Homo sapiens: one gene and its partners. The protein of the gene in region 1 interacts with the protein of each later gene in a pairwise test. Each region holds a gene or a part of one and is shown in the gene's direction. Other genes may lie near its edges. The genes, in order: ZSCAN22, NEXN, ZSCAN18 and KCTD19.

Region 1 (8,005 bases):
ATTGCCTACATGCGGCCAGGCGCAGTGGCTCATGCCTGTAATCCCAGCAATTTGGGAGGCTGAGGTGGGCGGAACATGAGGTCAGGAGATCGAGACCATCGTGGCTAATACGGTGAAACCCCGTCTCTACTAAAAGTACAAAAAAAAATAGCTGGGTGTGGTGGTGGGTGCCTGTAGTCCCAGCTACTCGGGAGGCTGAGGCAGGAGAATGGCGTGAACCCAGGAGGCAGAGCTTGCAGTGAGCCAAGATTGCGCCACTGCACTCCAGCCTGGGCGACAAAGCAAGACTCCGTCTGGAGAAAAAAAGAATTTTTTCAAAAAGAAAGTATTATCTCCCTCTGAATGTCGGTAGCACCCCCATCTAGAAATGGGGCTAGATTCTGAGAAGTAGAATTAATATTGAGGCAGAGAGCACAGTCATTTTAAAGCTCTTACAACATACTGCCAAATTGTTTGCCAAAGATATTCTAATTGATTGCCCTCACCAATAGTACATGAAAGTAGTTTTTTGCTGTCCCTGACCAGCATTCAGTGCTCACAGTTCTAGAATTTGGAAAGGCTTTGAGTGTGGAGGAAAGATCGCAGATAGCCTGAGCTCAAACACTAGCTTTGTTCCTACTGACCAGATGACTCTAGCAGCTGACTTTCCCCAACTTGGAAAATGGGAGTGGTAATACTGACTCACAGGGTGGAGCTAAGGCTTGAATGGGATAACAGATGCCAAAGGCTAGTGTGGCCTGGTAGCCGGTAGGTTCCCACTGACTGTCTGTTCCCATTTTCTTTTATTCCTGTTGCACACTATACCCATATCCATCATCATAATTATCTTATCATGTGTTGGTCGCTGTCCTTCCGTTGAGGCCATTGAGCCCAGCACCCATGCCTTCCCCGTATTTGCATTCCTAGTACAGTGCTGGGCACAGAGTAGGCACCTAATGGGGCTGTGCTGAACAAAAGTATTATTATTGATGTATGTGCCCAGCAATGCTGTAGACACTGGGGATAAAGCAAAGACCTAAACAAAAACCCCTGCCCTTAATGTGCTGATACTCCAACAGGGACAAGTAAATAATAAACAAGTAACCACATACGTGTATCACACATCAGGTGGTAAAGAGCAAATAAAGCAGTGTAGAAGCACAGAGACTTACTGATAAGGCGTCTTTTGTGTAGAGGCCTGACTTAAATAAGGGAGAGAACACCCAACAATTATCAAATGCACTTTTTTTTTTTTTTTTTTTGAGACAGAATCTCACTCTGTCGGCCAGGCTGGAGTGCAGTGGCACAATCTCTGCTCACTGCAACCTCCACCTCCCGGGTTCAAGCAATTCTCCTGTCTCAGCCTCCCAAGTAGCTGGGATTACAGGCCCCCGCTGCCACGCCTGTCTAGTTTTCATATTTTTAGTAGAGATGGGGTTTCGCCATGCTGGCCAGGCTGGTCTTGAATTCCTGACCTTGTGATCCACCTGCCTCAGCCTCCCAAAGTGCTGGGATTACAGGTGTGAGCCACCGCGTCCAGCTGACGTTATTATTATTATTATTATTATTATTATTATTATTATTATTATTATTTTGAGATGGAGTCTCTGTTGCCAGGCTGGAGTGCAGTGGCGTGATCTCGGCTCACTGCAATCTCCACCTCCCGGGTTCAAGAGATTCTCCTGCCTCAGCCTCCTAAGTAGCTGGGACTACAGGCACACGCCACCACGCCCAGCTAATTTTTTTGTATTTTTAATAGAGACGGGGTTTAATCATGTTGGCCAGGATGGTCTCGATCTCTTGACCTTGTGATCGGCCCAGCTTGGCCTCCCAAAGTGTTGGGATTACAGGCATGAGCCACCGTGCCTGGCCAACATTATTTTTTTAAAAGCTGTATTTTTATTTTATTTTATTTTTTGAGATGGAGTTTCACTCTTGTTGCCCAGGCTGGAGTGCAATGGCAGAATCTCGGCTTACTGCAGCCTCCACCTTCCAGGTTAAAGGGTTTCTTCTGCCTCAGCCTCCCAAGTAGCTGGGATTACAGGCATGCACCACCACGCCCGGCTGATTTTGTATTTTTAGTATAGATGGGGTTTCTCCATATTGGTCAGGCTGGTCTTGAACTCCTGACCTCGTGATCTACTCGCCTCGGTCTCCCAGAGTGCTGGGATTACAGGCGTGAGCCACCGCGCCTGGCCTCCAGAACATTTTTATCATCCCCAAAAGAAATTCCCAAACCTATTAGCAACCACTCTCATTTTTGTCTCTCTTCAGCCTCTGACAAACACTAATATGCTTTTTTTTTTTTTTTTTTTTTTTGAGATGGAGTCTACCTCTGTCGCCAAGGCTGTAGTGCAGTGGTGTACTCTCGGCTCACTGCAACCTCTGCCTCCCAAGTTCAAGAGATTCTCCTGCCTCAGCCTCCTGAGTAGTTGGGATTACAGGTGCCTGCCACCACACCCAGCTAATTTTTGTATTTTTTAGTAGAGACGGGGTTTCACTGTGTTGGCCAGGCTGGTCTTGAACTCCTGACCTCAGGTGATCTACCCACCTCGGCCTCCCAAAGTGCTGGGATCACAGGTGTGAGCCACCGTGCCCTGCCGTGTCTTTCTTCTTTTACTTAGCATCATGTTTTCAAGGTTCATCCATGTTGTAGCATTAATCAGTACTTCATTTCTGTTTATGGTGAATAGTGTTCCATTATAGGTATATACAGCATTTTATCCATTCATCAGGTGGACATTTGGATTGTTTCTCCTTTTTTGCTGTTATGAGTAATGCTGTTATGCACATTTATGTATAAAGTTTTGTGAGGACATATACTCATTTCTCTTGGGTCTATACGTAGGAGTAGAATTGCTAGGTCATGGGGTAACTCTGTTTAAGCTTTTGAGGAACTCCCAGACTGTACTTCCCACAGTGGCTATCCCATCTTACATTCCCAGCAGCAGCATATGAGGATTACAGTTTCTCCATATCCTTGCCTACACATGTTATCTGATTATAGGCATCCCAGCAGGTGTGAAGTGCTATCTCATTGTGGTTTTCATTTGCAGTTCCCTGGTAGCTAGTGATGTTAAGCATCTTTTCATGTATTTATTGCCCATTTGTGTATCTTCCTTGGAGAAATGTCTAGTCACATTCTTTGCTCATTTTAAAATTGTATTATTCATCTTTTTACTATGGAGTTGTTCTAGATACAGGTCCCTTATCAAATATATGATTTGCAAATATTTTCTCCCACTCTGTGGGCTGCTTTTTTACTTTCTTGATGTGGTCCTTCAAATCACAAAAGCTTTTAATTTTGATAAAGTCCAGTTTATTTATTTTTTCTTTTGTTACTTATGCTTTTGGTGTCATAGCTAAGACAGCTTTGCATTATTTTCAAGTATTCATGGAACATTAACCAAAATTAACCATACACTGGGTCACAAACCAAGTTTCAGCAAATTTTAAATGATCGAAATCCATTGTAGCATGTTTTCTGACCACAACAGACTTAATCTAGACATCAGTAATAAAAAGACAACTAGAAAACCCCCAGTTGTTTGGCAATGAAGCAGGAGAGTTTTAAATAAATAACCAATGGGACTGGGCATGGTGACTCATGCTTGTAATCCCAGCACTCTGTGGGGCCGAGGCAGGCAGATCGCTTGAGGTCAGGAGTTCGAGACCAGCCCCGCCAACATGGCAAAACCCCGTCTCCACTAAAAATACAAAAATTAGCCTCACATGGTGGTGCACACCTGTAGTTCCAGCTACTTGGGAGGCTGAGGCAGGAGGATTGCTTGAACCCGGGAGGCGGAGTTGCAGTGAGCCGAGATAGCGTCACTGCCCTCCAGCCTGGGCGACAGAGGGAGACTCCGTCTCAAAAAAATAAAATAAATTTTAAAAAATAATTAATGAGTAAGGTAGAAATTGTAACAGAAATTAGAAAATATTTTTAACTAAATGATAATGAAGATACAACATATCAAACTTGTGATGTATAGCTAAAGCTGTGTTTAGAGAGAAATTTATAGCCTTAAATATGTGCATTAGAAAAGAGGAAAGGCGAAAGTCAATTATGTATCAATCTCAAACACTACAAAATAATTAGCAAGTAAAGTGAGAGAATGACCATGTGGCTACCTGGGGAACAGAGGGAGAAAGACTTGGCTCTGTTGGGGAGGAGCACGCCTTAAACAGGCTGGCTGTAGGTTTGCGTGGGTTTGTAGCTTAGCTCTCTGTTAACCCTTCACTAGCTGAGGGACTTTGGGCAAATATTTTCCTCCTGAGTGTCTGTTTTTCCATCCATAAAATAGGTAGAAAGTCCCACCTCCTGAGTTTGTTGTAAGTTTTTTGTTTGTTTGTTTTTGTTTTGAGACAGAGTCTTGTTCTGTTGCGCAGGCTGGAGTGCAGTGGCGTAGTCTCGGCTCACTGCAAGCTCCGCCTCCCGGGTTCACGCCATTCTCCTGCCTCAGCCTCCTGAGTAGCTGGGACCACAGGTGCCCGCCACCACGTCTGGCTAATTTGTTTTGTATTTTTAGTAGAGACGGGGTTTCACCATGTTAGCCAGGATGGTGTTTGTTGTAAGTTTTAAATGAGTCTACATGCAAGCAGTAGTAGCTTAGAACAGTGCTCAGCACCAAGTGGGTGCTGTCCTAATTATGAGGATTGTCTATGTCTTTGTGAGAGTCTTTCACATCTCACGGGCCACAAGCCTGTGTTTTCCCTGCTCTGTAGGCATGAGGCAGGGCCCAGGTTCCATGTGATGCTGAAGCTCTGACATTCCTGCAGGCCCAGTTCCAAGGCTCCGGCATCCTGTGTCTCACTGAGCACTGCTGCCCGATGGCCATCCCCAAGCACTCCCTGAGCCCAGTGCCGTGGGAAGAGGACAGCTTCCTTCAAGTGAAGGTGGAGGAGGAAGAGGAAGCCAGCCTCTCCCAGGGCGGAGAATCCAGCCATGACCACATTGCTCACTCTGAGGCTGCACGCCTGCGCTTCCGGCACTTCCGCTATGAGGAGGCATCTGGTCCACACGAGGCCCTGGCCCACCTCCGAGCGCTGTGCTGTCAGTGGCTGCAGCCCGAGGCGCACTCCAAGGAGCAGATACTGGAGCTGCTGGTGCTGGAGCAGTTCCTGGGTGCGCTGCCCCCAGAGATCCAAGCCTGGGTGGGAGCCCAGAGTCCCAAGAGCGGAGAGGAAGCCGCTGTGCTGGTGGAGGATCTGACTCAGGTGCTGGACAAGAGAGGTAAAGGGGCGCCGTGGGCAGCTTCACGGCACACCAGAGATACACCCTGGACAGGAACATGGGAGCACAGGGCTCTGGTTTGGGGTTGCTCATGCACCCATTCTCACATTTGTACTTTACCGTAACTCTCACACACTGTTGTAGACAGGTGTGTTTTGGTTGCAGGTGACCAAAAGCGAGCTGAAATGGGCTGAAGCAAAGAAGGGTAAGGAGGCAGCAGATACGGCTATATCCAGAAGATCTGTTGACAGCATCAGAACTCTCTTCTTCCTCTCTTGTTCTGTTTCTCAGTTGGTTTTTTCTGTGTTAGCTTCATTCTTATTTTAGGTTCTCTTTCCAAAGGGGTTAAAGATAGCCAGGAACCCCAGGCTTATGTCTTACCAATGTAGAAACCCCGGGGTAATAACAATAAGAGGTCCCTGGTCTGAGCCCCCACTGGCCTGGTTGGGATCTTATGTTTGTGTTTGGCCAACCAAATCCCAGGGACTAACAGTGAGCAACTGGCTGTTTCTCAGAGGAAACCAGACGAGGGCCTGGGTGCCTGGGGTGGCTGTTGGGGGTGACGGAAATACCAGATGTCCCTGTGTACCTTCTCTATGCCCACCCTGGGCTGGCCTCCAGGATTTGGGTGGGTCAGACCTGCCCCAGGCTCAGCTGGGCACTGTTACTCACAGAGACCCACACAAACATCCCAACCCAGGGAGGTCCAGTGGGATGCAGGGAAGACCCAGCCTTGGGACAATCCAGAGCAGGGAGTGGTGGCTCGTCTCAGATGGGCTTGGCCTGGCCTATTGGCAACAGATAGGAGGTGGGCATACCACACACTGGGAGGAAACGTGCAGTGTGCAGGAGGAATGTGGAGTCTGGATACAGCTGCATCATCAAGGCTCAGTAGATCCAACCGCTGCTGCTCTTCCTGGCCATGTGACTCCCTTGTGCCTCAGTTTACTCATGGGTAAAATGGGGATTGTAATAAAAACGCCCACCTTAGTGGTGTTGCGAGATACAAGGCAATACCCGTGCAGCACCTGAAATGGTGCCTGGCACAGATTAAATAAATGGTAACTGCAACTGTTAGGATAATTTGTTCAGCTCTGGGAGAAACAGGCCTCTCTGGAACAGAGGTTGGTCTATGCCCAAGCAGATGTCACAGAGACAGGGAGAGGAAGGAGGGAGTGGCCCCATCCTCCCACAGGGTTGGCCAAAGCTCAGAGAAAGGGTAAAATGCAGAGGGAATGGTGGGGTCAAAGGCCTGGCAGTGTGATTTGCACTGGTGTATTCTGGTAAAAGCAGGTGGTGTGATGTTTCTGGATAGAGGAAGGAAGGGGGAGACAGGGCCAAGCAGATGGCTGGGGGAGCAGGGGAGACTGCCTGTGGACCTGGAGGAGAACATTCTGGAGCTGAAATCCCAACTGGGCCACTAGCTAACTGTGATCCTGTACCAGTTACTCAACACCTTCCCTCAGCTGGATTTCAGTTTCCCCATCTGCAACAGAATCACAGCAGTACCTCCTTCTGAGAGCAGGTCGAAGCTGAAATGAGGCGATGGAAGTCACCCACTGTGCTTGGGGCCCAGCACGACAAGAGCCTGATAGTGGTTAGTGGCCCTGGAAGGCCAGCGGCACAGCATCCATGGCTTACAGATGGGGAGACTGAGTCCCAGATGAGGGCAGGACTGATTAAGGTGGTAGACCTGGGGTTTGAGTCCAGTTTCTGCACTGCTGAGCCCCACTGTGGACTTGAGCAGTGGGTATTCCACCTGTCTCTGCCTCCTCCCTGGAATCCATCCAGTAGATGTGCCAGATTATGTGTCCTTTGCACCCATGCAGGGCAGGTCAGTGCGAGCATTCCTCTACCTCATGCACACTCTGATCTCCAAGAGCACCTCCGCCACACTCTGCCTTCATAGTACTTTACAATGTAGGGGCTTGAGAGGCCAGATGGGTACCTCATGTACTCACCCCCAGCAGCCATATTCTACCTGGGGTTCTACTTGCAGAAATTTTCACCATCGTGGGCTTCTGGATGGATTCCCTCATTCAGCCAGAATTCACTGAGCACCTGTGGACACATCCAGGCCTAGAGGCAAGGTGTTGAGTGTGAGGGACAGAACCGCAACCTCACAGAGATCAGAGCCTGCAGGGGACACATCCAGGCCTAGACGCAAGGCGTTGAGTGTGAGGGACAGAACTCCAACCCCACAGAGATCAGAGCCTGCAGGGGACACATCCAGGCCTAGACGCAAGGTGTCGAGTGTGAGGGACAGAACTCCAACCCCACAGAGATCAGAGCCTGCAGGGGACACATCCAGGCCTAGACGCAAGGTGTCGAGTGTGAGGGACAGAACTCCAACCCCACAGAGATCAGAGCCTGCAGGGGACACATCCAGGCCTAGACGCAAGGTGTCGAGTGTGAGGGACAGAACTCCAACCCCACAGAGATCAGAGCCTGCAGGGGACACATCCAGGCCTAGACGCAAGGTGTCGAGTGTGAGGGACAGAACTCCAACCCCACAGAGATCAGAGCCTGCAGGGGACACATCCAGGCCTAGACGCAAGGTGTCGAGTGTGAGGGACAGAACTCCAACCCCACAGAGATCAGAGCCTGCAGGGGACACATCCAGGCCTAGACGCAAGGTGTTGAGTGTGAGGGACAGAACTGCAACCCCACAGAGATCAGAGCCTGCAGGGGTGCATGTGCTCAGGGTCCTGACAAGGACAGACCCTCCCTCTCTCTCTGTCTCCAGATCAGTTCCACATCAGGGTTTCTCCTCTTGACTCTTGAGCCAAAATT
Region 2 (8,190 bases), on another chromosome or scaffold:
GCAGCCTGGGGTTTGGGGGCCCCTGCCCTAAATCATCATCTGGAATTTCGAGTTTTCCTTACTTTTAAAGGAGAGAAAAGGTACATTAAAAAGCACTGACTGCAGAATCTCCCTAGATTTGTACAATTTTGTACCCAATCTTTTACATTTGTCTTCTCCACACCTAGCTTGGTGGTAATTTTTGTAAGCTATTTGCCTTTATCAAGTCTTTTCAAAGCATTCAACTCAGCTTTTATAAAAAACTATAACTTTATTTTTGCTTTTATAATTTCTTTCTTTATTTTTTTTTTTGGCACGATCTGGGCTCACTGCAGCCTCCGCCTCCTGGGTTCAAGCGATTCTCCTGCCTCAGCCTCCTGAGTAGCTGGGATTACAGGCACGTACCACCATGCCCGGCTAATTTTTGTATTTTTAGTAGACGGGGTTTCGCCATCATGGCCAGGCTGGTCTCGAACTCCTGACCTCAGGTGATCTGCCTACCTTGGCCTCCCACAGCACTGGGCTTACAGGTGTGAGCCACCATGTCTGGCCTATAATTTCATTTTTTAAATGTTTACTTTGTATAATTTCAAAACCGTGCAACTGACATAGAACAAACCTAATCACTCGTGATAAGTATACAAGTAATGCTTATACAAATGGGCAGATCTTGGATTTTTAGTAATCTCAAACTTAGCATGTCAAAACTGAGCTCCTTACCACCCCTGCCTAAACCTCCTCTTCCCACAACCTTCCCTATCTGAGTAAATTACAACTCCATTCTTCCAGATCAAAGGCCCAAAACCTCCTTTCCTCACACCTCACATTCAGTTACAAAAAAAAAAAAAAAAAAAATCCTACCATTTCTACCTAAAAAGGCAACAAGGAAAAAAAAATATGCCAGGTATTTCTCACTACCTTCACAACTATCACTTTGGCCCAAATCCCCATTCCTCATTCCGATTATTGTGGAAGCCTCCTAATTAATTGATCTCCCTGCTTCTTCTCTTGCCTCATTTGGTGTATGTGCAGCACTTAAGCTAGAGAGAGTAAACATGTCAGATCATGTCACTATGTTGTTCAAAACCTACCAGAGACCACCCATGTTAGAGTAAAAACCAAAATCTTTACAATGCTGTACAAAAAGAGGCTGGGCACAATGGCTCATGCCTATTATCCCTACTCTCTGGGAGGCCGAAGTGGGAGGATGCTTAAGCCCAGGAGTTTGAGACCAACCCAGGCAACATAATAAGACCCCATTTCTACAAAAACTAAAAAATTAGCCAGGTGTGTTGTTGCATGCCTGTAGTCCCAGCTACTCAGAGAAGCTGTGGCAGGAGGATCGCTTGAGCCCAGAAGTTAGAGGCTGCGGTGAGCTGTGATTCCACCACTGCACTCCAGCCTGGGTCTCTAAAAAAAAAAAAAAAGGCCAGGCATGTTGGTTTACGCCTGTAATCCCAACACTTTAGGAGGCCGAGGTAGACGGATCACCTGAGGTCAGGAGTTTGAGACCAGCCTGGCCAATATGGTGAAACCCCATCTCTACTAAAAATACAGAAATTAGCCGGGCATGGTGACAGGTGCCTGTAATCCCAGCTACTCGGGAGTCTGAGGGAAGAGAATCGCTTGAACCCAGGAGGCGGAGGTTGCAGTGAGCAGAGTTTATGCTACTGCACTCCAGCCTGGGCGACAGAGCGAGACTTATTCTCAAACAAACAAAATCCTACGTAGTCTTGTCTCCTGCTCCCCACTGCACCTCCTATTACCTCACCCTTCACCTACTCAGCTTCACTCGCACAAGCCTCCTGGTTCTTCCTAGAACATGTCAGATAGAATCCTTCTCTGGGCCTTTGTATCTATCCCTGGACCACTCTTCCTCCAAATATTTGCTTCTCCAGATATTTACATAGCCTACTGCCTCACTCTCCTCAAGGCTTTTACTCATATGAGGCTTTCCTTAGCCACTCTATCTAAAATTACAACATCTACTCAGCCTGCCTCCAGCATTCTCTACTTCCCTGCTCTGGTATTATCCATATTGCCATATTACATGTCACTAAATACTACATAGTTCACTTATTTGCTTATTGTCTGCCTTCTTTCACTAGAATGTATGTTCCATAATGGCAGGGATTTTTCCTTTATCACTGCTGTATCCTTAGCATATAGAACTGAATATCTGTTGAATGAATGAATGATGAATTGGTGGGAAAATAAGCAGGCCTTGCATGCTGTGAGTAGCTATCAGTGTTCTACAGAGAGAATGGAGAGCTTTGTTTAATCTGGTGAATCTATTGGGTGGATATAAAAATAAAAAATTGTTAAGTTTCTAGTTATTTATTTATTTATTATTTTTTGAGACAGAGTCTCACTCTGTCGCCCAGACTGGAGTGCAGTGGCATGATCTCGGCTCACTGCAACCTCCACCTCCTGGTTTCAAGCAATTCTCCTGCCTCAGCCTCCCGAGTAGCTGGGACTACAGGTGCACGCTACCACACTCAGCTAATTTTTATATTTTTAGTAGAGACAGGATTTCGCCATGTTGGCCAGGCTGGTCTCGAACTCCTGACCTCAAGTGATCCACCCGCTTCAGCCTCCCAAAGTGCTGGGATTACAGGCGTGAGACACCATGCTCAGCCAACTCACTTCTTTAAATCACAGAAATAAATATGTAATTATAAATTGATATGTATAGGGGCAGGGCACAGTGGCTCACACCTGTAATCCCAGCACTTTGCGAGGCCGAGGTGGGTGGATCACTTGAGGGCAGGAGTTCAAGACCAGCCTGGCCAACATGGTGAAACCCCATCTCCACTAAAAATACAAAAAGTAGCCAGGTGTGGTGGCACGCGCCTGTAATCCCAGCTACTTTTGAGTCAGGAGAATCGATTGAACTGGGGAAGCGGAGGTTGCAGTGAGCTGAGATCGTGCCACTGCACTCCAGCCTGGGCGACGGAGCGAGACTACATCTCCAAATAAATAAATAAATAAATAAATAAATAAATAAATAAATAAGCAAATAAATAGGAATATATATATATAGGGAAGAGAAAGGTGGGATGAAAGGTGAGGTGCAAGGTGGGGAGAAAGGTGGGATGCAAGGAAGCCTTCTCCGAGGAAGCAGCATTTAAGAAGAGATCGGGAGGATATGTTGAAGTTAGGTGAAGGGGAAAGTGGGAGAAAGGATTTCATGCAGGGAACAACTTATACAAAGGCCCTGCAGCCAGACTGCCCATAGAAAGTTTCATGAACTGAAGAAGGCCAAGGTGATGGCATCAAAGAGAGCAAGGGCACAAGCAAGACTACCAAGACCACCTATCACTATCCGTAGTTCGGTACATTTAAATAATTTTAATTACCAATTTTGAACTTTTCTGTAATCGAGGAATGAATGGCTTACCCTCCTTAGAAAAGTTTCCATCCTGAGTAAATACTGTGGGGATGGGACTGGGGAACAGAGTTATATTTGAGTAGAAGGCCTTTTGTGTGTACGGGTGTGAGAGAGAGAGAAACAGAGAGAGAGAGGGAGTTTCACTCTTGTTGCTCACGCTGGAGTGCAATGGCGCCATCTCAGCTCACAGCAACCTCAGCCTCCCGGGTTCAAGCGAAGTGGGTTCTTCAACCTCAGCCTCCCAGGTAGCTGGGATCACAGGCGCACGTCACCACGCCCGGCTAATTTTTTGCATTTTTAGTAGAGATAGAGTTTCACCATGTTGGCCAGGCTGGTCGCAAACTCCTGACCTCAGGTGATCCACCCGCCTTGGCCTCCCAAAGTGCTGGGATTACAGGCAGGAGCCACCGCGCCCGGCCTTTTTTTTTTTTTTTGGAGACAGAGTCTCATTTTGTCACCCAGACTGGAGTGCAGTGGGATGATCTCTGCTCACTGCAACCTCCGCCTCCTGGCTTCAAGTGATTCTCCTGCCTCAGCCTCCTGAGTAACTCAGATTACAGGTGTGTGCCTCCACACTAGGCTAATTTTTTGTATTTTTAGTAAAGACGGCCTTTTGCCATGTTGGTCAGGCTGGTCTTGAATTCCTGACCTCAAGTGATCCACCCGCCTCGGCCTCCCAAAGTGCGGGGATCACAGGCATGAGCCACCGCGCCCAGCCCAGAAGGCCTTTTCAACATCCCTGAAATATAACCTGAGCACCGCTGTCTGCTTAGGGCCTGAAGGTGGAAGTGGTTACCTTTATTCTTTATCTGGATGTCATTTCGATTTTTTTTTCAAGTGCAGTGAAGAATTAAAGATCTCGTCCACCAAAAATACTCCGAGTGTGCATTTCGGGTTTTAATATGGTATTGTCTGATGGGTTTGACAGGCTGGCGGTCCAAGTTGAAAAAGGTCTGTGGGTGTCTAATAGTCAAAGATGCCTTTATGAAGCTTTAGAAAGACCAGATATGGTTTGCCTTCAATTAAGAAAAAGGTGGAATATAAAGATATTTGTACTTATATAAATATATTCCTTCTTTTCTTCTCCTCCTCCTCCTCTGCCTTCAACTTTCTTCTTCTTCTTCTTCTTCTTCTTCTTCTTCTTCTTCTTCTTCTTCTTCTTCTTCTTCTTCTTCTTCTTCTTCTTCTTCTTCTTCTTCTTCTTCTTTTTTAACTCTCCTTTTAGAGTTAAAGACTGGAGCTAAGAACAGGGGAGCAATAGACAGATGAAGTGTTCCCGGATTGCTGCCCCACGCTCTTTGTAATAAAGGAAAACTTGGCCAAAGGTCAATGCTTAGGGTAGTAGAAGATATGTAGTGGCTTGGCTTCTTGACTGGAAACTAGGACGGGTAGAGTAGCTGAGAGAAGTGGGCCCCAGAGCAAACTGGTTGCGGGTAGGGGGAGCCAGCTTCAGCCCGGTAATGAAGCCCATTTCAGCCTCATTCCTTTCCCATGGCGGAGGCAGCCTTCCTTCCCCAGGCCTGGCTGGAGGTGGAGGCAGGCCCAAAGTTAGGGGGTCAGCTCGCGCACCTAGGGCCGGGAGACAGACAAATTCTGGCGGAAAGTTGGCAGCCACGGTCCCCCTCCCCTGCTTTTCTCCTCAACTCTCCACCCCCACTCCGGGTGATAACGGCGGAGGTGGGGGGTTGGGGGAACTGGCCTTGTGTTTTGGAACAGCTGCAGCCGGCGCTGGGCCCGCCTGGAATGCGGGAACAGGCTGCACACCAGGACTTTTATGGAAACTTGCTGCTGGAGACGGCGGCGGCGGCGGCGGCAGCGGCAGCCAGAGGACTCCCAGCGGCTGGAGCAGAAGTGTTAGCGGCCAGAGCTCCCAGACCCCTACCCACAGCCAGGCGGGACGCGCACAGTCCCTCCACGCGGAAAGAAGTACCTTCGCCGGTCACCGGCTCCTGCAGGGTGAGAAGAGTTGGGGGAACGTGGGCTGGGGGGAGTGGAGACGGAGGTGTCGGGTCCCCTGGTGGGGGCGGGGGCGGGAACGGCGGCTGCAGAGAGGCGCTCGGGGTCTGCGGCTTCTGGCCGTGCTCCGCTGCAGCTCCGGAGGGCGCCGGGCGCCATACAGCTGTGGTCCGCGCTGGCCCCGGCCCGGGCGAACCCTGCCTTGGAGCCGCATCCTGCGGGCTCGGCGGGGTGCCTACCAGGGGCTGCCCCAGGGTCTGAAAGTGTCGGCCGGCCTTGGGCTTCTGGTTGCAATGTCTTTGCCCTGCTCCCCTGCGCCTTGTCGGCTGAGTTTCGGGTGCGTTCCCTACTGTAGGGAGGGAGCCCTCTGTGAGCGGAGTGGGTGCCGATCCCTCGGCTGAACCCTTGGGGTCCTTAGGGAAGTTCAGTGCCGTCCCCCACCACTTGCCCCAGCCGCGGTCTCCGTCTCTGCCAGCAGTGCCAGTTAAGAAATCCTTTCTGATCGGTCTCTGTGGAAGATGGGGAGAAATATGATTTAACAGCCTATTACTCCCCCCCCACACCCCCGCATATCCCCCCACTCCTGTCTCCAACCCTTTTTTTTTTTTTTTTCGTGATTCTGCCCGAGGTGGGATGCTGGGGGTTGAGCAACTAGGGCTGGAAGTTTACGAAGTTTACGTAGTTTAAGTGAGTGAAGAATGTAGTCACCTCTTGAGAACTCCCTTTGCCTATATGCTTTTGAAAACGCCAAACCATTCCAGCTGTTTGTAAATTGTGAAACGTTCTACAAATGCATTAGCATTGGCATTTATAAAGAAAATGACGAAGTTGAGAGGTTATAGTTGGTTACTGCAGTGACTTAGAGATGCTCATTTTATAGTTATTAAAGCACAACGTGAACCAAGTTGGCAGAGAGATAACAAGGTAAAAATAGCATAAGGATATGTCCTAACAAAATGTCCTTGGTGAAGACACAGGTAGAGAAAAGAAGCCATAATAAAGAAATTAGTTCCCTGACCAAAACAACGGGAATATCATTCATCGTTAAATTTTGTTAATGAATTCATGTAGCAGCGGCCCATTGGCCTTCGAGTCACAACATAACTATGTCTTAGGTAATGTGATTAAATAAACTTAAGTATTTATACTTAAGTTCATATCTTAGTCACACGTTATTTATATCTTAGTCACACGTTATTGAGTGGACCACATAATTTCCCCCGCTAAACATTATCCTTTACAGGTTAAACTGCTGCAGTTAGAAAACTTTGTCTCAAATTCTTTTGAGTTTGGGGTATTGTTAAGAAAAAATGCATAATTAATCAAATGAGAGAAAGGTTTTTTGGGGGGAGGTATAATTTGTATAAGTAAACTTTGATTAACCAATGTAGCTGTTTAAGTTTCTTCTTCCTTACAATTAACACCGTATTTTTGCAGATATTTTATATTTTGACTAATGCTTCTGAGGAACAATTTAAAGAAAAATGCATGCAATTATGTAGTTTATCTGCAATTCCCTTAAAGAATTCTAAGCTAAAACCACAACAAAATTATTTTAAATCCAGTTTTCCTCATCATAGTTACAATGTAATCCAGTTTTAATAAAAGATTCATATTTTAAAATCCATTTTCAATTGAAATGTAATGAATAGCAATTGTTCCTGCTCACCTTAAAATGGAATTTGTGCTATTTTTGAAAATTTGACATGTAAGGCTGATCATTGTCAAAATGTATGTCATCTTGAGATGACTATATTTAGCATCAACAAAGGAATGCATTATCTAGGTTTTTGAACAGTCTTTTTCCCCTGAAATTTCACTTGAAGTATTTAGGTTAGGGTTTCATTTTTGAGCAGAATAAAAACTAAATATGCATATTTGGAAGACATTAATTGGGGATTCAGATTGCTTAGAATCTGAGCGGCCTATAATGACATACTTCATTTATTAAAAAAAATACCTGTTATCTTTGAAATACCCTAAAAGACAAAAAAAAGGGGGATTATTTAAATATGAGAGTTGTGCACACCTAAAAGAAAGAAAATAATGCAGTGAATGTGGAAAAGTATGTAACAGACAGGTAAAAGTCTAAACGTTTTTATAGAAGAGAGGACTGTTATTTTATAGTTATGTAGGCCACACACACACAGAACATCTTGGTAGTTTATAATTTGGAGAGAAAATGATTTATAACATTCTTAACAATTTCACATATTTCTGTTCTTATTTAATCAATCTGCGGTCCATATCACCTGTGTAGTTTCTTTCATGTTCTCTTTCTGGGTTTATAATTGCATAGTTACATATTATATACATTTGAAATGGCTACATTTTCCTTTATTATTTAAATATTCAGTGTATAGTTTGGCTTAATTTATAGTAGTTTACTTTCTATACTCCAGGGTGGGTGGATTTGTACCCAGAAATCCACCTTAAATTTTAGTTTAATTTGTATTATAATGTTAATACACCATGTTATATTTATGGTTAAAAATTATGGAGAATGGAAAAAGGGGCTCTTGTAATCTGACACTCTTACTGTTAGGATTTTGATGTATTTCCTTTAAGTCTTTTTCCCATGCATAGAACTCTTTCTTTTTGCATTGACATATCTCAATAAAACAACATGTGAAAGCATCCCATGCAGTGTCTGCCATCCAGTAAGTGCTCAACAGGTGATTCTTTTTCTTCCTCCTTTATTTCCTTCTTGACATCTCTTCCTTTTTACTCTTAGATTAGAAGACAAGCAGATTGGGGCTCCCTATATGAGGTTTCAAGGTTGGTGAAATTCACTTCTCACCGTCCATCCTGGGCCTCTTCCCTGTCTTTTCTTCCCCTTCACTCTTTCTGGCCAAAATAGGCCT
Region 3 (5,881 bases), 250 kb from region 1:
GAGACACGTGAGTGCCCAGCTAGCCTGGCAGCCTCTGCTGGGCCTTAGGTGGGGTGTTGGGCAGAGGCCTGTGGTTGGGAGAGGGCAGAAGGGCAGCCAGGGAGTCAGGGGCTCCATGGTCCATGCTATCATTGGGACTTCCTCCTGTAGTTTCTCTGAATGTTAGACATTGTTTATTAAATTAGTCTTCAGAGATTATGCAGATCATCCATACTTACCACAAATAGTGAAGAAACATCAATACATAAAGAAAAGAATCTCCCAACCCCCGACCATGAACCCTCTGAAAATAAAGGGTCTCAAGTGTCCTGATGCACGTCCCCTCATGTCTCCCTGCACATCACACATGCATAATCAGGGCCTGGGGTCGGGCTCTGTGTGTGTGGTGTGCTGTGTCTGAGTGCTTGCTGTTCGAGGGGTGGGTCCCCCAGGCTGTGGTTGGGTCTGGTTCTTTAGTTGCCCAGCATCGCGTGCTCAGCCCATCCCCATCCTAGAGGTGGGCTCTCTGCCCCTTGGAGTGAAGCTGCCCTGACACCTCCTGACTTGTGTGCCCATATGTGAGGCTCTGGGCACTGTGGGTGGACTCCTCAGGACCACTGGGCAAGTGGTGTGTGAGTTCGACATTTCACATAAAATAGAAACTTCCATGTGGTTTTCCAGAAGTTTTGTGGCTGTTCATTACCAGCACGGAAGGTGCCCACTGGCCTGGATACAGCCCAGCACTATGTGGTGTTGCTTTTTAGGATTTCCACGAAGGCCAGGCACAGTGCCTCATGCCTGTAATCGCAGCACTTTGGGAAGCCAAGGCGGGCAGATCACTTGAGCCCGGGCATTCGAGACCAGCCTGGGCAACATAGGGAGACCCCATCTCTACAAAAAATACAAAAATTAGCCGGGTCCGCACTTTTAGTCCCAGCTACTTGGGAGGCTGAGGTGGGAGGATTGCTTGAGTCCAGGAGGTGGAGGTTGCAGTGAGCCAAGATCATGCCACTGCACTCCAGCCTAGGTGACAGAGCAAGACCCTGTCTTTAAAAAACAAACAAACCAAAAAAAAAAAAGATTTCCATGAATCCAGTGGACTTGAATGGGCATCTCTGGGGCCACCCAAGCCCTGTGGCCACCGCGCTGCTTTGTAAATCAGGGAAAGGTGTAGTGTCCGTTGAGCCTTGGGTGCTGCTGTCACAGAAGCACACTGGGGCCTGTGTGGGAGGCAGCGGGGGCTCCTTGACCCTTGAGGGCACCTGGCCACAGGGAGCTCATTGCCTCAGCTCTGCCTCTCCTTCTCCCCAGCCTGGCTTTCTCCGGACCCCCTGTTTCTGGAACAGAGGAGGGTCAGAGAAGCAAAGACCGAAGAGGACGGCCCTGCCAACACCGAGCAGGTGGGTGGGCACGAGCAGGTGGGTGAGGGGCCTTGGCCTCAGCTTAGAGGCATCCCCCTCCCCATCACCAGTGCTCAGCAGAGGGCTGTGGCCCCAAACGTCCACAGCGCTGAGGCCCAGAACCCACCCTGGTGGGAGCGTGAGGGCGGAATCTTTGTGGTGCGAAGGGGGCTGCCTCCTGCAGTGCACCTGGGTTAGAGTCCCTGGCCAGGGCTGGCTCCTAGCCTGCTCCTGTGGCTGTGGGGCTGCGGCGGGTCCTCCCTTCTCTAGGGCAGGTGGGAGGTCTCAGCCACGACTAATGTTTCAGAAGCTGAAGTCCTTTCCAGAGGACCCTCAGCACCTGGGGGAGTGGGGCCACCTGGACCCTGCCGAGGAGAACCTGAAGAGCTACCGGAAGCTGCTCCTGTGGGGTGAGAGTCGCCTGCCTCGGGGTCACGCCCCACTCCCCATCCCCTTCCGCAGGGGTTGGTGCAGGAGACTGTGACCCCAGGGACTTTGGCTGGGACACTGTGATGTCTTACAGGATTTGAACTTGCACGTGTTGGAGCTTGAATTTATTCGCTGAAGCCCCCACCCTTTCTGATCTAAACATCTGAGTTCTGCCCAGGCCCTGCCTGTAGGACTGAAGCCTCGGAATTTGGAAAGGCCTCCTGGCCCCAAGGCGCCCACATTGCCACCCTCCTTGCCAGATACAGGGCCTCACCTGCATGGCCTGATCAAGGGTCTCCTCTTTTGTAGACGTTCTTGCCCCAGAAACCCTCCTTTTAGGGAGGCCCCCCGACTCAGACTCCTGAGCAATTTTTGTCAATGTCTTTCTTTAGCTTTGCTTTCTCTGAGTCCTGCCTCCGCCTGCCCCGTTGCCCTTCCAGCCTCGCCTTCTTCTTTGCTCCACTGTCCAGGGGCCTAACAGGGAGGTGGCCTTGGTGGGGGTCCCAGTACAGAGAAGAGGAGGTGGGCTGCAGCCTGCCCTGGCTGGCCCACGACACACAACACCCATCAGCCACTCTGTGTTGATGCCTTTTATTTCTTTGGTTTTTAACCCCACTCAGGGTATCAGCTTTCCCAGCCTGACGCTGCCTCCAGGCTGGACACTGAGGAACTCCGGTTGGTGGAAAGAGATCCACAAGGAAGCAGCCTCCCAGGTGAGGTTGGGTTGAATTGGTGTTAGGGCCGGGTGGGGTTTGCTTTTTCTTCAGAGGCTGAGGGGGCCCCTCCCAGCGCCATCAGCCCCAGCAAAGACCTCAGCATTGACTGCTTCACCATTCTCCCACCACCGTGTCTGAGTGAGGCAGGAATCCAGTTACGTCCATGGTCTCTTGCTGCATGACAGACCACCCCAAGACTTGGTCGGTGGAAACGGCAGTGGTGTTAGTTGCCAGGATCTGTGTATGACTGGTCCCGGGGGTGGCCGTTCTGCCCCATTGGAGGCTCTGTGCCAGCACACCAACAAGAACACCTAGAGGCGGACTTGGGCTGGAGGGCCCTGGGTGCCTGTCGCCAGGGGGCTTGTCGCTGGGGGGTTTGGCCTTAGCTATTGACCCCACTCTCTTCGCTGGCAGCCGGGCCCCTCCCTCCAGGAGGGTGCGCTCTGAGCAGGCTCTCCTTGCATCGTGCATCTTGTGGCCAAGCTAGTGGCCAGGTGGAGACCTCCAAAGGCGCGGTTTCCAGAACCCGGGCTCAGTGGGGCTGTCCTTCCTGTCCTGTCGGTGGCCTCCGTTGTTGGAGGCCTCCAGGTCCCACATCTGCAGCAGCAGGCGCGGGGCATGCGCTGCAGGGCTGCCTGGGAGGGACAGCGCTGCTTCCAAACAGCCGTGAGCCCCGCGGGGATCCAGAGCCCGGAGCCCTGTGCGCTGTTCCGGCAGCTGAGGCTCGGCTGGGTCCTCCTCTCCCTGGCCCTGGGCGGGGCGCTCACGCTAGGGCTCTGACCTTGTTCCAGAAGGCGGGAGGCGGCAGGAGAGCGCTGGGTGCGCCTGCGAGGAGGCCGCCCCCGCGGGGGTGCTGCCTGAGCTGCCTACGGAGGCGCCCCCTGGGGACGCCCTTGCCGATCCCCCGTCGGGCACCACTGAGGAGGAGGAAGAGCAGCCTGGGAAGGCCCCGGACCCGCAGGACCCCCAGGACGCGGAGTCCGACTCTGCCACCGGATCGCAGAGGCAGTCCGTCATCCAGCAGCCTGCCCCGGACAGGGGCACGGCGAAACTGGGAACCAAGAGGCCGCACCCCGAGGATGGGGACGGGCAGAGCCTCGAGGGCGTCTCTAGCTCCGGCGACAGCGCAGGGCTGGAGGCCGGGCAGGGCCCTGGGGCTGACGAGCCGGGCTTGTCCCGCGGGAAGCCCTATGCCTGCGGCGAGTGCGGGGAGGCCTTCGCGTGGCTCTCGCACCTGATGGAGCACCACAGCAGCCATGGCGGCCGGAAGCGCTACGCCTGTCAGGGCTGCTGGAAGACCTTCCACTTCAGCCTGGCCCTAGCCGAGCACCAGAAGACCCACGAGAAGGAGAAAAGCTACGCGCTGGGGGGCGCCCGGGGCCCCCAACCGTCCACCCGCGAAGCCCAGGCGGGGGCTAGGGCGGGCGGTCCCCCAGAGAGCGTGGAGGGCGAGGCTCCCCCCGCACCCCCAGAGGCGCAGAGGTGAGCCGCTGTGCTGTCCCGTTCCGGAGGGGCCGCTTTGCCGGCCGTGAATCCCAGACGAGGCATTGGGCCTTTCCACGCCCCTGGGTGGCGGCTTCCTGTGGTGTTTGTGGACGTCCTCTGCCTGTGCCCTGAATCCGCTCCTGAGGCTAAGCGCTCCCAACGAGAAGGGTCCACGGGAAGCCCTCACCTCTGTAAACACACCCTGGGCCAGCGCTCGCATCCGAGGGGAGCCGCCGGATGTGGAAGAAGACTCGGCTTTCCTGCAGCCATTTAGTGCCGCCCCATGCTAGGTTATTTGACATTGTGCAGTGTAGAGTTGCCTTAAAGTGCGTGATCTGCCAGTGCTTTCTTCAAGTCACCCTTGCCCCGATTCCTCCTGTTTGCGCTCCCCAGGGTTGCTCAAGTGGAAATTTTGTCAGCTGTTTAGCCTTTTCGTACTTGGCGTGATGTCAACTTCACTTCTAATCTGCAAAAGCAGAAGCTGTTTCCTAGTTTACCTCGCGTGTGTTTACCTATATGGAGTAGCTCGCAGAGATCACAGAAATGCTTGCAGCCTAAGGCAGGGTTTTCAGACCGTGGGTCCCAGCCCATTTAGTAAAATGGGAAATCAATTAGCAAGTGGTCACCAGCATTACACAGCAATGAAGCAGAATAAAGTAGGCCAGAATGCATCATGTAGTAAAGGCAAATACTGTTTTGTGAAACTTTTCACCCATACATCTAAATGTGAGAACTGGTTGCAATGTAAGACATTTCTTGCTGGGAAGTTGTGAGCAAAATAAGTTGAAAACACTAATAAAGATCTGTCTGTCTGAGCAAAGGAGACTAAACTCCTTGGGCTACATAAGGTGATCTTTTCATTGATTGCATTTATTCTCAAGATTACAGTATCATTCCCATTGCCTGCGCATAAACTTAACTGCTCCCTGCGCATAAACTTAACTGCTCCCTGTAGATACAGAAACTGGTGCCTCTTTTTCTGTCACTGTGTTTGAGCAGGCAGTCTGTTGTAATGACCCCCAAATCACAGAGACTTAGTAAGTACTTATTCATGGGCCGGGCGTGGTGGCTCACACCTGTAATCCCAACACTTTGTGAGGCTGAGGCAGGCAGATCATGGAGTTTGAGACCAGCCTGGCCAACATGGTGAAACCCTGTCTCTACTAAAAATACAAAAAATTAGCCAGCTGTGGTGATGCGTGCCTGTAATCCCAGCTACTCAGGAGGCTGAGGCAGGAGAATTGCTTGAACCTGGGAGGCGGAGGTTGCAGTAAGCCAAGATTGTGCCACTGCACCCTAGCCTAGGTGACAGTGCAAGACTCCATCTCAGAAAAAAAAGAAAAAAAGAAAAAAAAATTATTTACTAACAGTCGATTGTCCTGTGTTGGTGTTGCTGTTGCTTATATATTGGTTTGCACTCTGCTCCATACAGTGATTCAGGGATCCAGGCCCCATCTCTGTTGTAGCTCTGCTCTTCACTGTACCCTTGGAGCATGTAGGGAAGGCCGAACCTGTTCACCTGGGAGATGACACACATCACTTCTACTCACAAATCCTTGGAGAGAAATGATCCCATGGCTCCAGTCACTTGAAAGGGCCTGTGAACTGTCACCTGGAGTGCCTGTCTCCGCAACAGTTACAAGCTTAGTTCCCCTCTTAGCCTATCCATCTTAAGCCCCAAGCTGAGTGTGGTTCTGGTAAGAAAAAGGCTAAAATGGTCTGGGCACGGTGGCTCACGCCTGTAATCCCAGCACTTTGAGAGGCAGAGGCAGGTGGATCACCTGAGGTCAGGAGTTCAAAAGCAGCCTGGCCAACATGGGGAAACTCCATCTCTACTAAAAATACAAAAAATGAGCCAGGCGTGGTGGCAGG
Region 4 (8,005 bases), on another chromosome or scaffold:
CAGAGGCCCAGCTTGGTGCTCAGGGCCTCAGGAGCTTCCCTGGGCAGAGGTAGCGGAAGCATGACAGAGCCTTCCAGGAAGCAAGCAGATTCCAGCATTAGAATCTCACTAGACTCAGGGCTGTTTTATTCCCTATTTGTTTTGGGATGGCCTGGCTGTAAAAGTGTCAGGCACTGGAAAGTGCTAGGGACCACAGGAGTTGGTGTGAAGGGCAGGGAGCTCAGCTGGTTGCCAGTCGGCTTCTCTTCTTACTCTGCCCTTATGTATCCAGCTGGTCTTCCGGCCTCAGTTCCTCTCACCATAAAATGAGGAATCCAGATTGTTTCAAAGGATGGTGCTACCTGCTCTTAATGTCAGCAAACTCAGAATAAAAGGGAAGGAGGGTGGATGGTGACAGGTTCCCCCAGAGTCATAGCAGAATTGTCCACTTGAGGTAGTGGCCTAAGGAAGGATGAGATTTTCCACCTTTGACAGAGAGAGCCTCTCTCCCCCTACTGCCCCAGGATGAGCTCTGTTTGGGATGTGAACTGAATGATCTCTTTGACCCCAAGATGCTACTGCTGTCTAGATAGATAGGGCAGTAAACACTCAAGTTACACTAGGAGCCCAAATGTCTGGAACCCCAGTCATTCATATTCATAGTCACCTAGAAAGTTGTCTGTGATGTGCTTCTGTATCTCTAAGTTGATTCACACAGGACATTAGCGTTGGCTCCATCTCTGCCTCCCATACTGCAGTCCAGGCAGGGACAAACTGCAAGTGCCACCCGCCAGCCCAGGCTCGGCCGGGCCCCTCCTCTCTAAGCAGCAAGACAACTCCCTCTTTTGGAATGACCTGCTCTTGGGTCAAAACTCACAGGGTAAGTCTCAGGGCCAGTGTGCCCACCAGGAGGGCCTGGCTTGGGAGCCCCAGGCCAAGCCACGGGAGGCCACACCCACGGCCTCAGACACAGGAAAACAAAGTAATGTGGGGTCTTTCGCCTTGAAAACCACACACTCAAAGCTAATCTAATAAGGTATGTTGATAAGTTGTTTCAGAACAAGGAGAACCTAGGATAAGTTACAGCACCAGAAACCTGCCAAAACCAGGACCTACAGCTAAACCAGAAATAGCCTCATTAACTCACTGTGTTCCCCTTTGTTTTTCAAGTGAATTTTCTTCGCTCACAGAAGATTTTACTACCGGATAATTTCTCCAACATTGATGTATTAGAAGCAGAAGTGGAAATTCTGGAAATCCCTGCACTCACTGAAGCCGTAAGGTGGTACCGGATGAACATGGGTATGTCGCCAGGAAACCTTGGCTCCCCCTCGACAGTCTTGGCTTGACCTGGAAAAGCCAAGAACAATCTTCCCTCCCACAATCACTTCGGGCTTTGGGGGTTAGTGAGAGGATTGGGTTTTCTGGCTGACTCTGAATCCAAGAAGAGGATTCACAGCCTGAAACCCTGTGTGCTGCCCTGCCGGCTCAGCCTTCCCACTGAGGGTGGGGAGTGGGCAACCAGCCAGGGGTGTAGAAAGCCCAGCCCAGCCTGGATCAGGAGGAGCCCAGCCTGGGTGGGGAGCCAGGCTGGAATGTCCTGGGCCTGAAGGCAGGCTTCTCAGGGGCAGGGGAGGTCTGCCCTGCTTGTGAAAGTGGTGGGGACTAAGAGCACCCACCAGCCACTCCCATCCTTCCTCTTCCAGGCACGGTTGGAGGTGTGGGAAATGCTCAGTGCTTCATGCATCTCATCCACCCCCAAATTCCCTCGTCACCTCACGTGGAAACCCCCGGCTGCTGTGCCTGTTTCTGCCTATTCCTGACGCTTGCTGACCCCTGTCCAGCCTAGGCCTTCGTGCTCCCAGCCCTACCTCATTCCAGCTTGTTCTTCCCCTCATGGTTTCCTCAGGGCTGTTCATCATTCCATTTCCCAACTCCACCTCCATGGAAGCTACTGTGCATGTTATAGGGCGCAAGCTACCTGAGCATGGCTTCAGCCACCATCCCGAGAATGTGTAGAACTGCATTGCACATGGGAAGTTTGGCCTGGACATCACCAGACATTTATCCCATGGCAATCAGGCCTTTCCTTATCTTCAGGCATAGATTTCCCAGCCTTCTCCCAGACAAATAGAAACCCATCCTCTTGGCCAGGCGCTGGTGGCTGATGCCTGTAATCTCAGCATTTTGAGAGGCCAACGCAAGTGGCTCACTTGAGGTCAGGAGTTCGAGACCAGCCTGGCCAACATGGTGAAACCCCATCTCTACTAAAATACAAAAATTAGCCGGGCATGGTGGCACGCACCTGTAATCCCACTACTTGGGAAGCTGAGGCAGGAGAATCGCTTGAACCCAGGAGGTGGAGGCTGCAGTGAGCCGAGATCATGCCACTGCACTCAAGCCTGGGCAACAGAGTGAGACTCCTTCTCAAAAAAGAAACCCATCCTCTTTGTGGGGAGTGGCATGCTCCAGCAGGTCTCAGGACCCTGTCCCAGGGCCTTATAATCCGCTTAAGATGGTGTGAGTTCAGCCCCTTCCCTCAAAGCCTTCTACTCCTCAGAGAACATAGATCATTGTGAGATGGTAGCGTAGTCCCTGCTCCACAGAGCAATGCAAAGATGGAGGAAGTGTGTTGACAGCCAGGCTCTGGGAGCTGGCAGCACTCCTCAAACACAAAGGGTGGCTTTAGCTTTCTACAAAGCATCACAATAAGGGAAACAGCTGTGGTAACCTTGGAGCTGGACAGAGCTGACCTCAAATCCTAGCCCTGCCCCTGCCTAGCTTTGCAGTTTAGGGCAAGATACTTCATTAGCCTCTCAGGGCAGGTTCTTCAACGTGAAATGATGATAGCACTATCCCCTCTTGCAGGGTTGCTCTGAGGATTGGAGATGATCCACGAACATCCCCCAGCAGTGTGCCCACTGGCACATTGTTGCCACGGGAGCAGGGTCCTGAAGGCTGTGATAACTGTATTCTCTGGACTGTACCCTAGGCCCACTATAGGAGAAAAAGGTCCCATCCATAAACCAGCAACCCAAATACCCACCCTGAAAATAATGCCACACAGTATGTCTCTGGGGGAAATTCTGCCCAGGAGAGCCAGCAACAGGGGCTGTGAATCCAGGAAGCCTGTAACACACATTGAGTTTCCAGGCCATGGTTGCCGTTCTTTACCTTTGGATGGTTACAGAAGAGCTTGGAACTAATGAAGACTCCTGCAGAGGCTAGGGCCAGATGGCTGCTTTCCTGAAACTTAGGAAATTCAGATGCTAGTGATACAGCAAATGAATCCCCCCACTCCCAACTCACCTCCCAACAAATAGTTATGACTTCTAAGCCTGAGTATACAAAAAAATTATACTAATTTTGAGAAGATCTTGATTTGGACTGTGCAAAGAAATATCCTTCCTCTGAGCCTCCTCGGTACAATGGAGGCAGCAGTAGGAACCGAGCCCCAAAGCCTCCAATCCAGCTATGACCATGGGGGGCCTAGGAGTCACCCCTTTCTCTCTGACACAGGTGGCTGTTCCCCGACCACCTGTTCTCCCCTGAGCCCCGGGAAGGGGGCCCGCACAGCCAGCCTGGAGTCCGTGAAACCGCTCTACACAATGGCCCTGGGTCTGCTGGTCAAGTACCCGGACTCTGCGCTGGGCCAGCTTCGCATCGAGAGCACGCTAGACGGAAGCCGACTGTACATCACAGGGAATGGCGTCCTCTTTCAGCACGTCAAGTGAGGTCCTCCTTAGGGCACACTGAGTCCCATCACCCTTGGCTCTGCCCTTCCCTCTAGGAATAACCTGGGGCCTTTCCCACTAGCCAGAGGTGAAGTGTGTCCTTGGGGCCAGCCCATCATTTTAGCCATTACCATCACCAGCACCGCCACACTACCACCAGGTTAGGGCCTCAAAGGAGAGGGCTAGTGCCAAGGTACAAGGGTTGCCAAGGTTCAAAGGCTTCAGACCATTTCCTATTTCTGTCCTCTGCAGTCCATTTCCCTGGTTCTAGCCCTGTGCTAGGTCTGAGGTGACCAGGCCACAGTCAGGGAGCTGGGTACCTCCCTGTGCAGACCCCTCTACAAAGGTCCTCCGCCACTCTTGGGAGGCTCACTGGACACACAGAATGGCCAGAGCCAGGGGTGAGCCCCCTTAGAAGCAGGGCAGGGCAGGCCAGGCCAGGCCAGGCTTCCCAGAGGTGCTGATCCTCAGCCTTTGCCTTATGGGATGAGCTCAGGATGTCCTCATTAGTGCAGGGGCAAGGAATCCAACCCTGTTTTGTAGATGGGCAAACTGAGGTGCAGAACAGCAGAGCAACTCTCTGAGGGTCACAAAACAGACTGGCACCAAAATGGAAGGTAGAAGTGGGTTTTCTGGAGCCCCTGGGAGAGGGTCAGCTGACCCTGAATGCTGTCTTTTCCCAATATTGTTGTTTTGGGCTCTTTTAGCCCATAAAGTCCATATCTTTCAGAGATGTCCACCCTGATGTCACAGAGGGCAAAGACAAGTGCCTTGGAAGGGAGGGTTTGGAGAAGGGGGTTGATGTTTAGACCCCAGCCTTTTTCCAAGACCGTGGCAGGCTGCAACACAGTGACTGAGATGTCTTGGGCAGATGCGTATGAGGCAAGAAGGGAGCGACTGGGCCCTGGGCTGGCCCTGGAACCGGAAACACGGCCTGGAGACATGAAATTAGTCCATTTAGAGGGCTTTGCTGAAATAAGTCAAGCTCAGCTCCAAAAATGTGACCGGTTGTCCAGGCTTACTCTCCTACAAGGTTAAACAGATTTCCAGTTAAAACAAGGAAACGGGCTGGGCGCGGTGGCTCACACCTGTAATCCCAGCACTTTGGGAGGCCAAGGCAAGCAGATCATGAGGTCAAGAGATTGAGACCATCCTGGCCTACATGGTGAAACCCCGTCTCTACTAAAAATACAAAAAATTAGCCGGGCATGGTGGCGGGTGCCTGTAGTCCCAGCTACTCAGGAGGCTGAGGTAGGAGAATGGCATGAACCCTGGAGGCGGAGCTTGCAGTGAGCCGAGATCGCGCCACTGCACTCCAGCCTGGGTGACAGAGTTAGACTCCGTCTCAAAAAAAGAAAAAAAAAAAAAAAGAAACCCCGTCTCTACTAAAAATACAAAAAATTAGCCAGGCGTGGTGGCGGGTGCCTGTAGTTCCAGCTACTTGGGAGGCTGAGGCAGGAGAATTGCTTGAACCTGGGAGGCAAAGGTTGCAGTGAGCCAAGATTGCGTCACTGCACTTCAGCCTGGCGACAGAGTGAGACTCCATCTAAAAAAAAAATACAAGGAAACGATGTTAATGATGCCTGATTTAAGCCAGTGTTGCGGCAAGGCATCCTAGGCATGGAAAGTTTACAGGCTCGACTCTCTTGGGGTACAATGCTGATGTTCTTCATGACAGACCTTTCCTCTGGGCAGGAACTGGCTGGGGACTTGCCGGCTGCCCCTGACAGAGACCATTTCCGAGGTATATGAGCTCTGTGCCTTCCTAGACAAAAGGGACATCACCTACGAGCCAATCAAAGTTGCTTTGAAGACTCATCTGGAGCCAAGGACTTTGGCACCCATGGATGTGCTCAGTAAGTGAGAAAGCTTCTAGGTTTGAATTTAGCATCAGGGGAGTATCTGGGAGATTGGAGGGAATAGATGATGTGGCCAGGACGAGGAACTGTAGATGGAGGAGGAGGGGAAAGCCAGGCCAATATTTTGGATTTTTACAAAAGGGAAACTTTCATATTAAGTGCTCCCTCCTCACCTCCAAGCCCACAATTCGTCTCCAGCAGCAGACAGGGCTGTTACCCAGTCTGGGGCCACGCAGGACCCCCAGGGCAGGCCTGCCTTGACCCTGGGAGCTGACTTGCTGTGCTTCTCACAGCCATGCAGGGAGGAGCCTCCTCTGTTAAACAGAGCTGTCCCTGGGTCCATTTAACAGCCAAAAAATAGGTTCAGAGAAGAAAACTCACTCAAGTTACACAGTGGTCAAGCTGGGGTTTGACTGAGTCCAAAGCTAATGTTGTTTTCACCAGCTGCCTATAACTTCTTATTACCAAAAATTTGGGGGACAAAGTTTAAGCTGTATTACTATCATTTAGCAGCATCCAACATTTATTGAGTACCGGTCATATACCAGGACAGCAGTAGACACTGGCGGCACAGAAGTAAGCAACACAGACTTAGTCCCTTTCTTCCTGGAGTTCACGGTCTAGTTCTATACATCTTATCTCTTGGTTATATAATCTAGTTATATACCCTTCATTCATTACAGAGCTCATTAGAAACTGCTTCCCAAACATCAGAACAAGGCCTACATATAGTCATCTCCAGGAAAAGGGTTATGGGTTCATCTTTCCAGCATACAGCCCCCATTCTCCAGACATGCCTAGAGGCTTAGTCTCATAAAAGTGACAGGGATTTGATGAGAGTTGGCTCCATGACATTTGCCAAACCACGAACATAAACACACAGAGAGAGATTCCTAGCTTCAGTCTGAGTGGCCACATGAAAAGCTACACACTCAGGACACACCCAACCAGAAACCGGAGGCAGCTGGCATTGTAGGTGGACAGGGTCATCAACCCAGCTTTCCTGAGGGAGGAGGGTCAGGTGAAGAGGGGCAGTGCCCTTTCCCGCCTCACCACCCAGGAAACCTTGCAGCAAGCAAGGTTTATGTCAGGGATTTCTGCTGCTTCTCAGACTAGGCAACACAATATGACTGAGGAAAGATATTGAGACTTAACGTGAAATACACTACTAACCAAAGGGCCCTACCTGCTTTCCCTTCTGGCCATATGATGATGTGTTCTATCTCCTGGATTCCCATAGATGAGTGGACGGCAGAGATCACTGTGTATTCCCCACAACAGATCATCAAAGTGTATGTTGGAAGCCACTGGTACGCAACCACCCTGCAGACACTGCTGAAGGTACTGACGGCCTCGGCTGCCCTGCTCCCCATCTGGCATCACCACCTGAGCTGCTCTGGGGGCCATCACCTGGCCCTCACACAGCTTCCAGCACTTGCTTAGAACAAAGGCTTTCCCGCCAGGCACGGTGGCTCATGCCTGTAATCCCAGCACTTTGGGAGGCTGAGGTGGGCAGATCACGAGATCAGGAGTTCAAGACCAGCCTGACCAACATGGTGAAACCCCGTCTGTACTAAAAATACAAAAATTAGCTGGGTGTGATGGCACGTGCCTGTAATCCCAGATACTTGGGAGGCTGAAGCACCAGAATTGTTTGAACCCAGGAGATAGAAGTTGCAGTGAGCTGAGATCGCGCCACTGCACTCCAACCTGGGTGACGGAGTGTGACTCTGCCTCAAAAAACAAAACAAAACAGAGCACAAGTGGACCGAGTGGCCTGCTGGGAAGGCCCTCCAGAGTTTGCATAGGGAGGGGGCCAGCTCTGAGGGACCTGGACTGAGAAGGAGGTACGGTGGGCTTCCAAATGCCTTGAGAGGGTGGTCTAGGGGCCATCAAAAGTTGAAGCAGGGATGATGTGCTTCTCCCTGGAAGCTCTGCTCCCCACCATGGTTCCTTGTGACTGACAAGACAGGGAAATGGAATCTCAAAGCCTCTGCTCTAGTGTAGTTGGAAAAGGGGAGTGAGAGAAGATTGACCTGCCCCTTCGCAAAGACCTAGCCTCTGAGACTGAGTCCGGTGTCCAACCCCCTCCAGTATCCAGAACTGCTGTCCAACCCTCAGAGAGTGTACTGGATCACATATGGACAAACCCTGCTCATCCACGGGGATGGCCAGATGTTCCGACACATTCTCAACTTCCTGAGACTTGGCAAACTGTTTTTACCATCTGAATTTAAGTAAGTGAAGCAAGGACGCAGTAAGATGAAATCACGAAGGCTGACCCCTCCCTTAGCAACAAAGGAGACCTGAGTTGCAGCCTTCAGGGAGGAGGTTATTTTATTTCCATCGTGGGAACTGTTGGCAGCGGCAGTTCCAGGAGCTCATGCTCCCTCCCACACCCTCATCCTAGCTGCCCAGCTGGATATCTCCTTG

Evidence for each region.
Region 2: the proteins of ZSCAN22 (region 1) and NEXN interact in binary tests that used the Homo sapiens proteins (3 or more experiments, as listed by UniProt).
Region 3: the proteins of ZSCAN22 (region 1) and ZSCAN18 interact in binary tests that used the Homo sapiens proteins (3 or more experiments, as listed by UniProt).
Region 4: the proteins of ZSCAN22 (region 1) and KCTD19 interact in binary tests that used the Homo sapiens proteins (3 or more experiments, as listed by UniProt).

The regions. Positions count from the first base shown.
Region 1 is NC_000019.10:58,329,994-58,337,998, forward strand, and holds part of ZSCAN22 (zinc finger and SCAN domain-containing protein 22), read left to right. Parts: intron 1-4,694; exon of another isoform or gene 4,695-4,758; 5' UTR 4,759-4,809; coding exon 4,810-5,212; intron 5,213-8,005. UniProt on the Homo sapiens protein: May be involved in transcriptional regulation.
Region 2 is NC_000001.11:77,883,434-77,891,623, forward strand, and holds the start of NEXN (nexilin), read left to right. Parts: upstream 1-5,190; 5' UTR 5,191-5,326; exon of another isoform or gene 5,327-5,835; intron 5,836-6,034; exon of another isoform or gene 6,035-6,106; intron 6,107-8,190. UniProt on the Homo sapiens protein: Involved in regulating cell migration through association with the actin cytoskeleton. Has an essential role in the maintenance of Z line and sarcomere integrity.
Region 3 is NC_000019.10:58,082,814-58,088,694, reverse strand, and holds the end of ZSCAN18 (zinc finger and SCAN domain-containing protein 18), read left to right. Parts: coding exon 1-7; intron 8-1,290; coding exon 1,291-1,379; intron 1,380-1,686; coding exon 1,687-1,789; intron 1,790-2,428; coding exon 2,429-2,521; intron 2,522-3,315; coding exon 3,316-4,010; 3' UTR 4,011-4,839; downstream 4,840-5,881. UniProt on the Homo sapiens protein: May be involved in transcriptional regulation.
Region 4 is NC_000016.10:67,295,067-67,303,071, reverse strand, and holds part of KCTD19 (BTB/POZ domain-containing protein KCTD19), read left to right. Parts: intron 1-1,149; coding exon 1,150-1,281; intron 1,282-3,498; coding exon 3,499-3,709; intron 3,710-5,408; coding exon 5,409-5,569; intron 5,570-6,812; coding exon 6,813-6,913; intron 6,914-7,666; coding exon 7,667-7,809; intron 7,810-8,005. UniProt on the Homo sapiens protein: Transcription regulator which is essential for male fertility and for the completion of meiotic prophase in spermatocytes. Regulates progression of the pachytene stage of meiotic prophase and promotes the transcriptional activation activity ZNF541.